Linked DNA regions of Homo sapiens: region 2 is linked to region 1. Evidence: fine-mapped expression QTL. A gene starts in region 1. The other region holds a variant in brackets. All regions are shown on one strand. Distances are from middle to middle.

Region 1 (8,339 bases):
TGCACAAATGGATTCCTGGTCTCCTTGGTCCACAGGATGGGAACTGTTGGTATTGCATTTGAACCAAGGAATATTTGTCTTAAGAGTAGCAGTTTTGTCCCGTTCTCCTTAAAGAAGGCCTAGATTATGTTGATTTTATTGTGGTTTTATTTTACCAATTAATTGAAGTTTGAGTCCTTGGATAGAATTTGCAAATCTGCTTTGCATGCAAAATTAAACTTGTAAACTAAATTTACTTGGGCGTATGAATATATTTAATACTTAAAGTGATATTTGGTAAGTTTTATTTCAAGGTAGAGTATTAACTTTTAGAGCTGGCTACTTTGGAAATAATTTTATGTACTTTTTGGAATGTTTTGACATCTGGAAAAAGTGTACTCTGTTAATTTCTTTGTAATACTGCAAAAAAACACATAGTTCAGTTGATGTTATCCTTACTGTTCAGTGCTGTTTACTAATTACCACAGGTAGAAATGGCTGTCTCAGATAATCTTCAATGAATTTTTTCTTTTCTTTTTTTTTTTTGAGACAAAGTCTCACTCTGAGTGCAATGGTGTGATCATGGCTCACTGCAGCCTCAAGTCCCCTGGGCTGAAGCGATCCTCCTGCCTCAGCCTCCTGAGTAGCTGGGACTACAGGCATGTGCCACCACCCTGGGCTAATTTTTGTATTTTTTGAAGAGATGTGGTTTTGCCATGTTGCCCAGGCTGGTCTCGAACTCTTGGATTCAAGCAATCCACCTACCTAGGCCTCCTGTGCTGGGATTACAGGCGTGAGCACCTAGCCACTCTTCAATGAATTTTACCTTGCAGTTACTAAACAACATTCCTGCAATGTTTCAAGTTCTCTCAGAGTGAACACTGTACATCATTACGTTTTTTTTTTTTTTTCCTTGAGACAGCCTTGCTCTGTCATCCCAGGCTGAAGCACAGTAGCACAATCATAACTCACTGTAGTCTTGAACTCCTGTACTCAAATGATACTCCTTCCTTGGCCTCCTGAGTAGCTGGGACTATAGGCACAGGCGACTGCACCTGGCTAATTAAAAAAAAGTTTTTTTTTTGGTCGGGCATAGTGGCTCGCGCCTGTAATGCCAGCTCTTTGGGACGCTGAGGCAGGTGGATCACTTGAGGCCAGGAGTTTGAGACCAGCCTGGCCAACACAGTGAAACTCCGTCTCTACTAAAAATAAAAAAATTGGCTGGGCATGGTGGGATGCGCCTGTGGTCCCAGCTACTCTGGAGGCTGAGGCAGGAGATTCACTTGAACCTGGGAGTGAAGGCTGCAGTGAGCCAAGATTGTGCCACTGCACTCCAGCTTGGGTGACAAAGTGAGACTGTCTCAACAACAACAAAAATCGTGTTTTTTTTTTTTTTTCCTTTTTTGTAGTGATGGAGTCTTGCTGTGTTGCCCAGGTTGGTCTTGAATCCTGGACTCAAGTGATCCTCCCACCTCATTCTCCCAAAGTGCTGGGATTAAAGACTTGAGCCACTGTGCTTATTATCTAATATAAGGCACATCTCAAAACTCTTGAGCTTGGTTTTGGTATTGCTTAGTTACCTGGATTTTCAGAGGTTGGTGGGCTAATTAGGCAGCTGTCTGTCCATTATTTTACCAGGCATTTATGACAGTGATTATTTTTTATGACAGTTTTTTGTTTGTTTTTTAAATCAGCCTGGACATTTAAATATATTGTGCCAGCATATTAGTTACATGAAGATTAGCTAAGATAACATAAGGTTACGGGCTGTTTAGTTGCACCTACAAACATAGTAAGACTTATCAAAACAAGTATGGATTTTGAATGTGAATATTTTAAAAGATATATTGAAATTACTTAGAGTAGCCCTGGATATATGTTCATTATGGCATTTATCTTGTTAATAAGTTTCTACATGCTCATTTTAATTTCCAGTAGCATGAGCAAGTAACTTATATTTCATTCCCGAGAAACTAAAAGAATCTGCCTAAAGAGTATGAAAATTGCCATTAAATCTGTATTGTCTACTTTCTGGATGGTTATATCATTATAGTTCTCTGCTCTTCCACACATTTTTGGGCTGCTATCAGTTTGTAAGTAATCATTATACAAACTAAATTTAAAAATTTAAACAAGATAATTTTATATTACTTGGATCAGGGAAAAAAATGCAGTTGCTGAAGGTGGTTTCATAGCTAAATATAAGCAATTATTTTGCTTTTTCTACTTTTTTGGATTTTATCATCTTTTCCCTTTTAGTAATAGAGTAATACAGGTAGGAATTAACTTAGCACTGCCAAATTAATAGTAATATTAGAACTGTGTACACAGCACAGGGTTAAGGTTATATAGAAAAATGTCTCATCCATGTTTAATTTGGCTGACCAGCCCAGTTGATTAGCCAATTTTATTGTTTTGTTAAATTAAAATTCTAAATATAGTTGTCCATTGTTAAAATAAGTGAGTAGGGTTAAAATAGAGAATTGATAAAAATAAAGCCTTAAAAATCTTTTAGCTAAAGTAGCAGGCTTCAAGTGAAATTCAGTTTTGGTCTCCTTTACAGGAATAGCTATTCAGTCAGACAGAACCACTTATCACGTTTTGCAGTATCTCCTGAGGAAGTCAGAATTCTGAGCCAGCATGAAGACGGAATCTTGTCTTTGATCTGATTTGCAAACCGTACTTTTATTCTAATCATGTGCAAGGTGGAGGTTATAGCGTGGGAACTAAAATCTTAGTAAGTGTGGTTTTTATTTTAGCTATTAAGTAGTATACTTTCTTATAGTGATTTTTTTTTCTTCTTAGCAGAGTTCACACTATAAATGGTGTATGGACTTGGCAGGCAGGAACATAATACAGTATACTTCAAAAGTGAAAGATTTAGGCCAGGCGTGGTGGTTCATGCCTGTAATCCTAGCACTTTGGGAGGTCGAGGTGGGTGGATCACGAGGTCAGGAGTTCATCAAGAGAAGCCCGGCCAAGATGCTGAAACCCTATCTCTACTAAAAATACAAAAATTAGCCGGGCATGGTGGCATGCACCTGTAATCTCGGCTACTTGGGAGGCTGAGGCAGGAGAATCGCTTGAACCTGGGAGGTGGAGGTTGCAGTGAGCTTAGATTGCACCACTCCACTGCATTCCAGCCTGGGCAAAACATAGCAAGACTCCATCTCAAAAAAACAAAAATGAAAACAACAACAACAAAAAAACAAACAAACAAAAGATTTAACCCTCTAGGTTCAGGAAAAATCCCTGAGAAAGAGAGAGCAAAGCTTCTATACTCTGCCTAGGATTTCTTTCTCTTTCCGGGTGAAAAATAGGTGTTGGGATGATACTGAGTTGATAAAAGTATTTAGGAAAAGTGGCCAGTGTCTAAATTCAAGCCATTAAAAAAAAAAAAATTAAATTTGTTATGTAAGTTGCTTCATTTATGAATTAGTTGCCATTAAATTATGAAGTCTTTCTTCATTATAGTGTAGTGTTAGCCCATTGTTGAATCCTAGAAATCTTTTAAGTAGTGTGAATATCTTTTAAATATGAATTGGATTTTTTGGGGGGCAGGGGATGGAGTCTCACTCTGTCACCCAGGCTAGAGTGCAGTGGTGCGATCTTAGCTCACTGCAACCTCTGCCTGCCGGGTTCAAGCAGTTCTCTGCCTCAGCCTCCTGAGTAGCTGGGATTACAGGCACCTACCACCATGCACGGCTAATTTTTGTATTTTTATAGAGACGGGGCTTTACCATCTTGGCCAGGCTGGTCTTGAACTCCTGACCTTGTGATCTACCCGCCTCAGCCTCCCAAAATGCTGGGATTATAGGCTTGAGCTACTGCCCCCGGCCATGAATTAGATTTTGAGTATATTTTAAATATTCAAAATTTAAAATATTTTAATTATGAACATTCACAATTATATTGGAATGATTATGCTACTGGTTATTTCAGTGACCTTCCACAGATTTAATTTTCCCCAGTACAGTCTTCTTTTTTTTACTCCAGATAGAACTAGATTTTGAGGCTACAGATTATCAAGGAACTACCTATTTCATAATGTTACTTTGTTAATTGTAGCCATTACTTCTCAACATGTTTCTTTACTACCTGTGCTAATTAAGAACAGTGGATAATTAGCATTTTAAGTTGCTTTTCTCCCTTAGCGAGAATGATAAAATAGACGTTGCTTGATCTTCTGAATTCATGAATCATAATCTGTGTTCATAATTTGAGAATGGTTATGTGTTTAAGCTATTTTTTAGTTTGTGTTGTTTCCTCTACCTTTGTCTCTTTAAACTATTGGTTACTTTTCTAAATTGATGTGATGGCCTCCCTGAAATTAAACATTTCTATTAGTGGCTTCCCGTTAATCTCATCCTTCTTAGATCAAACCTCGTTATATCTCCTGCCTATCTCTTTTGCATTCCAAAGTTCAGTTTTATTAAATCCCAGGGTCTAAGATTTTTTCTTTGAGAATTTATCTCCAGTGTTTCTATGGAAATTAAAAAAGAAAATTAGGATAATTCAATGTCGAAATGTTGCATGCATCTTTTGAGAAATTTATATTTTGTAGGTTGAAGGACTTGCTTTTTGGGCAGCGTATTTTTGGAGGTGGAATGTAGTTATTTTAATAACCATGTCCTAATTATTTATAGCTTCCTGCCTGACACAGCTCACTTCAAGAAGTGCACAATGTCAGAACGTGGAATTAAGTGGGCTTGTGAATATTGTACGTATGAAAACTGGCCATCTGCAATCAAGTGTACTATGTGTCGTGCCCAAAGACCTAGTGGAACAATTATTACAGAAGATCCATTTAAAAGTGGTTCAAGTGATGTTGGTAGAGATTGGGATCCTTCCAGCACCGAAGGAGGAAGTAGTCCTTTGATATGTCCAGACTCTAGTGCAAGACCAAGGGTGAAATCTTCGTATAGCATGGAAAATGCAAATAAGTGGTCATGCCACATGTGTACATATTTGAACTGGCCAAGAGCAATCAGATGTACCCAGTGCTTATCCCAACGTAGGACCAGGAGTCCTACAGAATCTCCTCAGTCCTCAGGATCTGGCTCAAGACCAGTTGCTTTTTCTGTTGATCCTTGTGAGGAATACAATGATAGAAATAAACTGAACACTAGGACACAGCACTGGACTTGCTCTGTTTGCACATATGAAAACTGGGCCAAGGCTAAAAGATGTGTTGTTTGTGATCATCCCAGACCTAATAACATTGAAGCAATAGAATTGGCAGAGACTGAAGAGGCTTCTTCAATAATAAATGAGCAAGACAGAGCTCGATGGAGGGGAAGTTGCAGTAGTGGTAATAGCCAAAGGAGATCACCTCCTGCTACGAAGCGGGACTCTGAAGTGAAAATGGATTTTCAGAGGATTGAATTGGCTGGTGCTGTGGGAAGCAAGGAGGAACTTGAAGTAGACTTTAAAAAACTAAAGCAAATTAAAAACAGGATGAAAAAGACTGATTGGCTCTTCCTCAATGCTTGTGTGGGTAAGTTTCTGTATTCTGCATTTTTTGCGTGGGATGGGAAAAGGTAGTAAAAATGATATGAAAAGAGCTGGGTGCGCTGACACACGTTTGTGGTCTTAGCCACTTGCTTGAAACCAGGAGTTTGAGGCTGTAGTATGCCATGATCGGTCTGTGAATAGCACTTGCACTCCAGCTTGGGTAACATAGTGAGACTGTGTCTCCACGCACATGCAAAAATGTGAGTGTGTGTGTGTGTGTGTATATATATATGCGCAAAGTCACTAGCATTTGATTCATTCAGCACGATAGCTGTACTTTCAAGTATGCATACATAAAAATTTGTGTATTTGTGATCTTGTCGTAACTTTGTACTAAATTGCCCACAATTAATTGTGTTCATGTCTCTCCATTACTGGGGGCAGTGGAAACGTTTAAGTTAAAGCAAAGTTTTTACACATCAGCAGTAAAATATATACCTGGACTTTAAAACTGCTACTCTGTTTATTGTAACAAGATGTAACTGAGGAACACCAGCTGCTGTTTCCAAGTATTTGTAAACAGTGTGAGCATCTTGTGATGATAGAAGCTTTAGTCAGATGTTAAAAATACCACAAAAATGTGTGACTCCAAGAAGTTGAACAAACATATTGACCTTGAAAATACTGGTGTTAATTTAACATGAATGTCATGTAGTAAATGTTTGCAAACTTTATGGAACTGATTACATGTAGCCAGCTGATTCCATACTTCAAGTTATGGTTCATATGTATTGTGACATTTTCCTCAGGAAATGCTGTTAAAGGACAGAGACATAGGAGAGCAGAGTTTTTCTTCAGTTCTTGACCTTGTGAGTTAATTGTGATGTAATTCACAAAAGCAGTGACTTGAGTCTTCAGTATTTTTTTTTTGAGTAGATTAGATGTTTGATTTTTATTAAATTATTTGGATGGGCTGCTTGCTTTGACATTTGGTCTTATGAGGGAAATTTTGAATGATTACTAAGTTTAAACTTTGTGTGGAACAATAGCTAAGCTTTAACTATACCTTAGCTGTATGTTTTCCCTCAGTACCAATTTCTTTTATTTATCCCTCTGGGTACAGCCCAAGAATATGGAAAGTTTAGGTGTATGAACCTGTGAGTCCTAGGAATTGATTTCCAAGAAATCGTGAGTTTTAAAATTAAATTATATATATCATTCCCCCCCCCCCCCCGCCCCAAGATGGGATCTCACTCTGTCACCCAGGCTAGAGGGCAGTGATGCAATCATGGCTCACTGCAGCCTCAACCTCCTGGGTTCAAGTGACCTGCCATCTCAGCCTCCCCAGTAGCTGGGACTCCCCATTAGCATGTACCACTATGCCCTGCTATTGTTTTAAATTATTATTTGTAAAGATGGGGGTCTACCTATGTTGCCCAGGATGGTCTTGAACTCCTGGGCTCAAGCGATTCTCCCACCTCAGCCTCCTAAAGTGTTGGGATTATAGGCATAATTTGCTGTGCCCAGCTGAAATCCTGAGTTTTCAATTTTAGCTTTGTTCTGGCAAAAAAGAATATCCCAGCAGATGAATCCTTCTGACCTCCAGACTTAGTAGGCACTTAGCAAGTCTTAGTTCTAGTTTCCTCCCATCCTGAGGATGAGGGGATGAAAACATACCGGGCTATCTTCTGTCTGTGTTGTCCCATTTTATTCCTCTGATTTTTCTGCTCCAAATTGAGGGGCAACATACAGTATGATTGTCAGTTAAAAAAATTTAAACAGGAGATACAAAAGGGTTTTGTTATTAGTTTCCTTAGAGATCAAATTGATTTAACATAAAAATTCACCGTTTTGCAAGTGAACAACTCATTTGGCATTTAGTGCATTCACATTGTGTAACCACTACCTCTGTGTTGTTCCAGAACATTTTCATCATCCCAAAAGGAAACTATGTACCCATTAAGCAGTTACTGCCCCCTACCCCTACCCGCTAACCCTTGATAACTGCCAGTCTGCTTTTGGTGTCTGTGGATTTACCTATTCTGGATATTCATATAAATGGAATCTTTACATATCTGTGAGCTTTTATGTTGGGTGTGATTGTCTTTTAATTGCTTGTATGCCTTTGGAACAGTCTTAAAATCATTTTTTTTTTTTTTTTTTTTTTTTTCAGGGAGTAGTGTACTATGAATACTTGGACTACAAGGTGGTGTTATAGTACATGTAGGTTTATAGATGAAAATGAACTAGACTTCATTGTGACGGTTCTTAACCTCACAGTGAAGGTCACTAAACCTCACTAAAGGTCATAGAATCCTTTAGGAATCAGGGCTTCATTTCAACCCCCGGTTGCTTCAAGTCAGTGGATCTCAGGATAAGAACACCTGATTTGAAATATTTTCTTTCCTTGAAACACACAAGTTAGATGAATCAACATGTTTGTCTTTATGACATTATTTCTTCTTGGTCCTGCCTTTTTCTACATATCCTTACTACTTTTGACTAGACGACTAGCCATCCTTGTACCTCTTTGCATTTTATTTATTTTTTTGAGACAGGGTCGCGAGGCTGGAGTGCAGTGCTGCAATCATGGCTCACTGCAGCCTTGACTTCCTAAGCTCAAGCCATCCGCCCACCTCAGCCTCCTGGGTAGCTGGGACTACAGGCGCATACCACCACGCCTGGCAAATTTTTGTATTTTTTTTGGAGAGACGGGGTTTTACCTTGTTACCCAGGCTGGCATCTTATTCCTGTGCTCAAGTGATCCACCCACCTCAGCCTCCCAGAGTGCCAGGATTACAGGGGTAAGCCACTGGGTCCGGCCCATCTCTTTGCATTTTAATCACTGAGTTCAATTTAAAAGTGGAACAAGGCCAGGCACAGTGGCTCAGGTCTGTTAATCCCAG
Region 2 (8,339 bases), 44 kb after region 1:
ATTGCTCTCCGTTCCTGCAGCATAGGCTTGATGCCTATGGTACCTATCCAGGTGAGCTCTGTTCTGTCTCTGGGGACACTTAAGATTACTGGTGTAGGTACTTGCATTGCTGTTGCTGATCTGTCAGGCCCTGAGGAACCAGTTGTCAATCTTCATAATGCTCCCTGTGGTGAGGCAATACCTGTGTCATGTAGGCAAAGGAAAAGGGTAGTTTAGCTTACTCTGAACTAATTACCATCAATAGGAATGATTTCTGATTAATGTGGGAATGAAGTTTTGCAAGTTTGCTAACGTCTTTTTATTAATGAAGGCTGCTTGTGACACAGAACTGTGTAGGGTTGTCCCTTAGACTCTTGGTTTCATGCTTTATTTTGTGAAGCACTTCAGTATACCAAACTGTAAAGTACAAATATATATACAACTACTCCTTTTTTTTTGCAGAAAGCACCATGGTTCATTTGAACTTAGAGAAGGAGGTACCCGATCTTTGGGCAATTTGGGCAGGATTCATAGTGGTTGATTTACATGAGACATGTATCTCACACCATGCATTGTAGCTCGATGATGGACCCATTTAATATTAGTATTCACGAGTTAGTTGATACTGCCATTTACATTTGCATGAAACAGGCTCACTTATTTATTTCAGGAGGACTTTGTTGTAGGTAGTGCTTTCACAGTAACTTAACGAGAATGTGATAATAAAGCATCCTTAGTTATCTGAATCTCTGGTTCCTGAGGTTGGAGAGTTAGTAGTGAGGGATATTTCAAAGTATGTATGCACATCTGTATAATTTGTGAGTTTGGATGGTAAATGATATTTGCATGTAGCCTTTATAGATTTCTTTTACAGTTTTACTGGATTTATTATTTGAGGAATCAAATGCTGCTTTGACAATCTTTTCTTTCTTAAAAACCAACTGCGATAGTATACTGAAGGGGAGGTAGTATTGTTTTTTACACATCAGTTTTCCAGGAGTGGTAATAAATGTTTTAAGTTTTTGTTTTGTTTCGTACAGCCTGGAGCAAGCTTGGAGCAGACGCACATTTTTGTACTGGCACATATTCTTAGACGACCAATTATAGTTTATGGAGTAAAATATTACAAGAGTTTCCGGGGAGAAACTTTAGGATATACTCGGTTTCAAGGTAAGCCATTATTCAGGAACGTTTTACAAGTTTCTTTGAACGGAATGGCTCAGATGTCAGGAAGGAGCAGTGGACAGGGGAATGTGAACAAGGGCAGTGAGGGAGTGGCTCTTTCTTCCTGTGACTGTTGGGATTTTCTTCCCTCTCTTTCCAGGTGTTTATCTGCCTTTGTTGTGGGAACAGAGTTTTTGTTGGAAAAGTCCGATTGCTCTGGGTTATACGAGGGGCCACTTCTCTGCTTTGGTTGCCATGGAAAATGATGGCTATGGCAACCGAGGTGCTGGTGCTAATCTCAATACCGATGATGATGTCACCATCACATTTTTGCCTCTGGTTGACAGTGAAAGGAAGCTACTCCATGTGCACTTCCTTTCTGCTCAGGAGGTAAGCAGTTTCTCCTATGAACTATTTCTAGTAGTGACCTTGTACCAGAAACAGCCTGAAGTGCCTTTCAGGTGTGGTTTTATCTGCACTATCACTTAATTTCTGAATGTGATGGTAGTAATTGCTGAAGGTACTAGCTATACTTTGAAATTTACCTTTTCAAAACTGCTGTATGGGGACACATCAAGGAACTTAAGGTGGTGATGGGTTTTAAGAAGAAAAAGTAAAGATGAGGTTTGTGATTTAAATATGGCATTTTAGGGAATGAGAAGTGAGTTTTTATCTGAAAGCAGAGTTCCAAGAATTGCAAGGCCAGTGTGGTTTAAGAGGGGAAGCAACAGGGAAAGAGAGAGGGTAGGCGGCAGGGGGAGGGAGGAAGGGAGAAGAGGTCAGAGAGGATAGGGATGGGGGGGAGTTCATTGAAGGCTTTTTAAAGCTTTGGGTTTTACTCTGGATAACGTGGTAAACCAATGGCCAGTTTACCCAGAAGAGGAACATTTGGGGTCTGGTGCATGGCAGGAGCAGGAACACCAGGTATTGTAGATGAAGGGGAGTGAAAGGGTGCTGTAGACCAGACAGGGGAGGTGGTGAGAAGGTACAAAAACAACGCTCTTTCAGAAAGCCAGTATTCTTATAAAAGTATTGGTCTTTTATTTAATATACTAGTAATTATAAAACGTTTATAATCACAACATGAAGAAAAAAAGTTCATAGACCGTAACTTGTATAATTTCAGCTTGTACATAATTGACTAAGTAAACTTACCTTGTCATGTGTTTGAAGCTGTGGCTTGCCAGGATCAGTTTATTAGGACATTTGTTTTTTATTTTATCTAACAAATTACCCTCTAGTGTGCTCCTCTTTAGTTTTTTTCTGAGAAATTTCCCATTTATGTCTTTTTAAATTTAACCAGAGCAAACTGGACTTTAATCACAAAACTTCCAAGAGGTCAAAACCATGTGAAAAGTTGATTGCTTTGGCCTTTTCATGAGTTAGCATACCAGCTGTAGGTTTCCATGTCACATTCCTACCAAGTCTCTGATCTGTTGTATGATTTTCCCTTTGTCTTCATATTCCTCCAAAAGCTAGGTAATGAGGAACAGCAAGAAAAACTGCTCAGGGAGTGGCTGGACTGCTGTGTGACGGAGGGGGGAGTTCTGGTTGCCATGCAGAAGAGTTCTCGGCGGCGAAATCACCCCCTGGTCACTCAGATGGTAGAAAAATGGCTTGACCGCTACCGACAGATCCGGCCGTGTACATCCCTGTCTGATGGAGAGGAAGATGAGGATGATGAAGATGAATGAAAAAAAAAATCAAACAGCAGAAGACCAAGGCATCAGATCTGTAATGACCCTAAAGTTAGTGTGGTGCTCCAAGCAGAGTCGACATCATGGAATGAACCAAATCTGGCAGGATCTGCTCGGGGAAGTGTTTTCCTGGACCACACACACCTTATGGAGATAATGCCTCTGCTGCGTGAGGAGACAGAGAACTTTAGTTGGACTACAGTTTGTAAAAAAAACTAATTTTATTAAGACAGAACTTTTTTTCCTTCCAAATTGTAAATCTGTCTATAAATGTAACGCATGTGGTTGTGTAAGACATTGTTTAATAGGAAAAGTTGTACCAGCATCTTCATATTATTGAGAAAATTTTTTCCAGCATGGGCACTTAGAAAAAGCACATGGCAAATGGCTCTTTGTTCCTTTCAGATATTATTTCAGTAGAACCTGGCATTCTACTTTCACCTTAAAAGATCCATCTAAGTCTCAGATCTGGAAACGTTTTGTACCGATTATCCACAGCAAAACAAAAATAAGCTTTTATTTTATTAATAATTTCGTTCCTCTTGTGCCCAATCAAATCTTTTAGGAACAAACTGCAAGAAAAGCTAAGAATGTTTTAGAGTGAACTAAATACAGACATTGCTTACTTGTTTTGAAGAGGGTTTTGGTTTTGGTTATTGTGTCTTTAAGTTTTCTGATATGCCCCCTTTCAATATTTAGATATTTATTTGTTGGGAAGAATACCTTAAAATGAGGGTTCTTATTCCAGATTCTGGGCAGTGGTCTGTGAGTAGTTTTTTTCCTGGATGAAAAGGGAGCAAGCCCACTTGTCACTAAATGAATTGTGTGAAATGTGCTCACTTGGACTCCATCAACAATGTGCTGCTCCCAGATTGCCATGCCAGAGGGTCTTCGGATTCTTCCTTCTATCACCTCTGCTCTAAGCAAATCTTGTTAGAAGGGCATGCCTTTGCTTAGGCAGATTGGGAATACCAATTCACTACAGAATAAAGATTTTAAAAATGCAATAAGGTGGCAAATGCATTGTATGAAGAATTTCTCAGTGTTTAGTCTGAGAATTTTTGCATGTTGGTTAATTGTGGCCATTCTTTAATTTAAAGTTAAAACTATAATCTTAGGTAGAAAAACTTTTTTATAAGAAGTATTATTTGACCACTTCAGGTATACATTCAATACTGGGTAAAAATTTCAGACCTATCTCAGGAACACAGAAATATTTGGTGTCCTGATAAGCACTTTCTAGACTATTGATGTGGCCAGGAATTTGGAAAGACGACACACGCACGCGC[G/A]CGCGCGCACACACACACACACACACACACACACACACAGTTTTTTCCTTCCCTGTGATGAAAAAGGCTGTGAAAACCTTAAAGTATTTGCTTGCTTCTTGTTTTGTTTAGTTGATAATGAAATGTGTACAACCTCAAATTTGCTGCCAGAATACTAAAAATAGAAAAATACCCACAAAACTGTCATGTCTTTAGTTCTTTCCCCCCGAAAACTCAGTAAAAAGGTGTTCCCAGGATGAAAAGATCATTTTTTGCTGCATGCTAAATCTTGCAGGAAAAATGATTTTTTAGTACGATTCTGTAGAAATGAATCTTTGATATAATGTAAATGCTGCTGTTTGTTTCAAGTGGTGAATGTGTTGTTAAAAATTGGCTGTTTGCTTTCATTTTGGCCAATAAGTAATCAAGTTTGTAGAAAATGTTAGCATTCTGACTACTTAGCATCTGTAGTAATTTCTCTATGTATAGGGATAATTTTTTAGTGGGCAGAGATCCTGTTCTAGTTGCCTGTTAAGCAAAATCTGCCCTCCCAATTGAAAAAGCCAAAGAGAATTGTTAGAGGGAAAAGCATGTAGCCATTGCAGTCTGCATTGCAGCCAGCGTTGTCCAGAGTACACGCTCAGCACTTAGCTTCTACTGTGTGTTGTGGTCTGGTGAGTGTTGTTTCCCCTGAGCGCTCTATTATTTATTTATTTATTATCAATCAGTGACCCTGACCACATAGTGTGATAGGTGCAGCATTCTTCCCTGTGGGAAAGAATTAAAGATGGTTCCATTTCCTAGGCTACAGACAGGAATGGGGCTCTAAATGGTTTTCATAGACTGGCTGTTAAAGGCCAAAAATTTTGGTAAATCAATGCTATATTATGCTCTTGAACTATTAAAACAGCCATAATTATTGTCCCAAGATAGAATATAGTCCTTTTTCAAAGATGATTATACGTGGCTAGGTGACAGACATTAATGACTGACTCTGGAGAGTAAGTCATACCTGCACTCTGTGGACTTGATGGTTCTTTTTCTAGAGCAAACAGAGCGTGGCATTTTGTTTTGACTTGTTCTTCCTTGGGGTCAAATTTATATATATATATATAAATTTTTGTTTGGGCGACCAAGATCTAATAATTAAAACCCAGGTGGACCATGGATTCAGACCTGCCTTTTTATGTTTTTGACTCTTAGGTTCATCGTGTCCCAGACTTCTTCACATATTCGTGAAGGTAAGATATTCTGTGTGCGCTTGGCCTCCTTTTCACGCATATTTCATTGCCTCTTTGATGAGTGGTTACGAAGACGTTAAACTACCTTTTTGTTCCCTGGGGTAATAGGTCAGTAACTATGAGCGCCGTCTCTCTCCATGTGAGCTTGTGTTAATAGACACTTTTATGGTAGAGTTGGGATGGGGCCACCACCTTAAAATGAGTGAGCAGACAAGGCCAGGCAAGCCAAAGGCTTTAAGACACCATGATTTTCTTGTTTTGTTTTAATTGGGAAGGGAAGTATAAGGAAGAGCTCAGAGGGAGTTTCATACCTGGAATTGTTGGACTTAATTGACACTTGCAAATACTTTTAGTATAAAGGTTTAATTCTATTTAAAAAGAAGATCCATTAAATCAAGCTCTTAACTCATGGGACTATTTGCAACACTTCTTTGTAAATATCATTTTGTTTGTTAGGTTATTGGCAAAACAGTTTCAAGGTTCACTTCCCTCCCTTGAACCAGGTCCAGGTCATTTTGCTTTGGGGTAGATTAAAGTCAGAACTCTAAAAGTTGAGCAACTTTGTTTTTTTTTGAATTGATTTAGCACTAACCCACCATTGCATCTTAAGGATGGCATGACGTGATAATGATGGACTTGTGTGAGGTTTTGATTTTTCAATTAAACTTTTTGTTATCACAGGTAATTAATTGTCAGCGGTCTTGAGTCTGGTTATGGAACCCTGTAGTAACAAGAGCTGGAAATTGGCTAATTGACAATGCAATTGCCTTAAACATCTCAAGTAGAGAACATTTACATTAGTGAGATGTACTTGAATTTCAGAACTTAACAAATTTTAATTACTTTTTATTGAAAACTGCACTGAACGCTAAATGTCCACCTTTACAATAAACAAATACAGTAACGGTAACTCACACTAAAACAAAACATACTTCTGATAGCCATTATTTTTCTGTTTGGGACAATTTTAAAGTTTTTCTTTTGTCACAAAAACAGGAATGTACCTATACAAAGGCTCAAAATAGGCCATCTTTTTAAACAAAAAGGCAATGATTCACAAAAGACTATGAATAGAACATGTAACTAGTTGATACAAATCTAATAGGATTTGTTAAAATCAGTCACATCTAATACATCTGAAGTGTTCTTGTATAAAATATCACGTGAAGAAAAGAAGACTTTATCAATGTCTAAAAAAGTGGGTTTGTTCATAGACAATCTGACAAGTTACCATAAAAAGTGTTTCCTGAGACATAAGGAAATGCAACATTATTCTTCTTGAACCCTTTTAGCTCAAGACTTTCCACTCAATAAAATAGCAGAGGATCTGAAACTGAGAAAATATATTTGAGTACAAACAGCTTGTGAAACTTAATACTTTTTTTTTTTTTTTTGCATCATCAGAGGGTTTTACTGAACTTACAACCGACTTGCCCGCTCAGTATGCAGTTCAGATGTGAGAGGCGCTTCTCTGTACAGCAGCCTGTACTGTCTTCAATCCTATGCGTGCAGGTGTCTACCACAGGCAAACAGTTTTCTCCCCATTTTGTAGTAATGTGATTTTCCTATTAGCAAAAAGAGGTCACCAGCCCCTGTAGACTTAAGGGACTCAAGTCACAGGATGGGGATTTCCTCTTAATATTTTTTATTTTGTTGTTTGAACTCTTGATGCAACATTGTAGAGCAGGGTGTTCAGGACCTGCTGTGCCCAAGGGACTGATAAAGGAAAAAGCTCTATTTATTCTTTTTGTGATTTGATGCACAGATGAAAAACTTAACACACAATAACAGAAGTTGGTCGTTAATAAATCACATCCTAGTCTTTCAGCGCTTCCGTAAGCAGACGACATCTTCAGTTTTCTAGCTCTTGTAGTTTCAACACTGCAACATCAATGATGCATATGTCCAGAATCAGTTACAAAGACCATCCGATTCTTTTTCTCTTAGTTCATCTATTTTTCACTGTCTCTTGGTCCCAAGTGTATCTGAGTGATTACCTTCTGGCATTCTCTGCTATTGCTCGTTGGGGTGCTCTCGATTGTCCCCGTGTTTTGTGGGCTGGTTGGGAGAGGGCGCTTGGGAAGGATGTGCCACTGTCGGGAGGTTGTGAGTCACTGGGATGCCTCCAGGGATGATCCCTTCCATGGCTGCAGGAAGTCCTCCTGGAGCCACACCCACGATGCCTGGCGGATATCTAAGGAACACACAGAAATAGGGCCTTGTAAGTTCAGGGCAGAGTTGCCAAGCTCTTGGCTCTTCTACTTCTGGCCTTTTCATAAGAGACAGGAGCCCAGTGACATGAACATGGCTCACCTTGACCGACCTTCTGGGCTCAAGTGATCCCACCTCAGACACCCAAGTAGTGGCGACCACAGGCATGAGCCACCACGCCTAGCTAGTTTTTGTATTTTTTTGTAGAGATGCGGTTTTGCCAGACTGCCCAGGCTGGTCTCAAACTCTTGAGCTCAAGTGATGCCCCATCATAGGCCTCCCAGAGTCCTGGGAGTACAGGCGAGAGACACCAGGCCTGGCTAATAGTTTTTTTTTTTTTTTTTGAGATGGAGTCTCACTCTGTCGCCAGTCTGGAGTGCAGTGGCGTGAGCAATCTCAGCCCACTGCAACCTCTGCCTCCTGGGTTAAAGTGATTCTCCTGCCTCAGCCTCCCAAGTAGCTGGGACTACAGGTGTGCGCTACCACACCCGGCTAATTTTTATATTTTTAGTAGAGACGGGGTTTCACCACGTTGGCCAGGATGGTCTCAATCTCCCGACCTCGTGATCCGCCCGCCTCAGCCTCCCAAAGTGCTGGGATTACAGGCGTGAGCCACCATGCCCGGCCCTGGCTAACGATTTTTATGGGATAGTTTATCTTCCCTATCCCCAAAGCAAGGAGAAGTCTCAATTTTTATATAAAACACTGGCAACTAATTCATAAAAACAAAACTAGTCCAATCCAAACACGGGGCCACTAATTTTGTAGCTTTTAGATAA

Which allele goes with the higher level. Positions count from the first base shown, and alleles are read on the strand shown. Sizes are in standard deviations (SD) of each study's normalised expression.
For the expression in subcutaneous fat of the gene that starts at base 4,292 in region 1, allele G in region 2 goes with a higher level than allele A (small effect, 0.36 SD a copy in FUSION).

The links.
Region 2: its variant is fine-mapped to the expression of ZRANB1 in subcutaneous fat (FUSION, PIP 0.95).

The regions. Positions count from the first base shown.
Region 1 is chr10:124,937,832-124,946,170 of GRCh38, forward strand. ZRANB1 (zinc finger RANBP2-type containing 1) reads left to right here and starts at 4,292. Exons shown (of 9, transcript NM_017580.3): 1 at 4,292-5,476. The coding sequence starts at 4,663.
Region 2 is chr10:124,982,156-124,990,494 of GRCh38, forward strand. ZRANB1 (zinc finger RANBP2-type containing 1) reads left to right here. Exons shown (of 9, transcript NM_017580.3): 7 at 1,020-1,149; 8 at 1,304-1,533; 9 at 2,619-6,034. The coding sequence ends at 2,837. It overlaps CTBP2 (C-terminal binding protein 2), which reads right to left. Exons shown (of 11, transcript NM_001329.4): 11 at 2,162-7,543. The coding sequence ends at 7,363. Among named protein-coding and RNA genes, the nearest start is that of ZRANB1, 44 kb to the left of the region's middle. The variant G/A (reference allele first, on the strand shown) is at 4,130.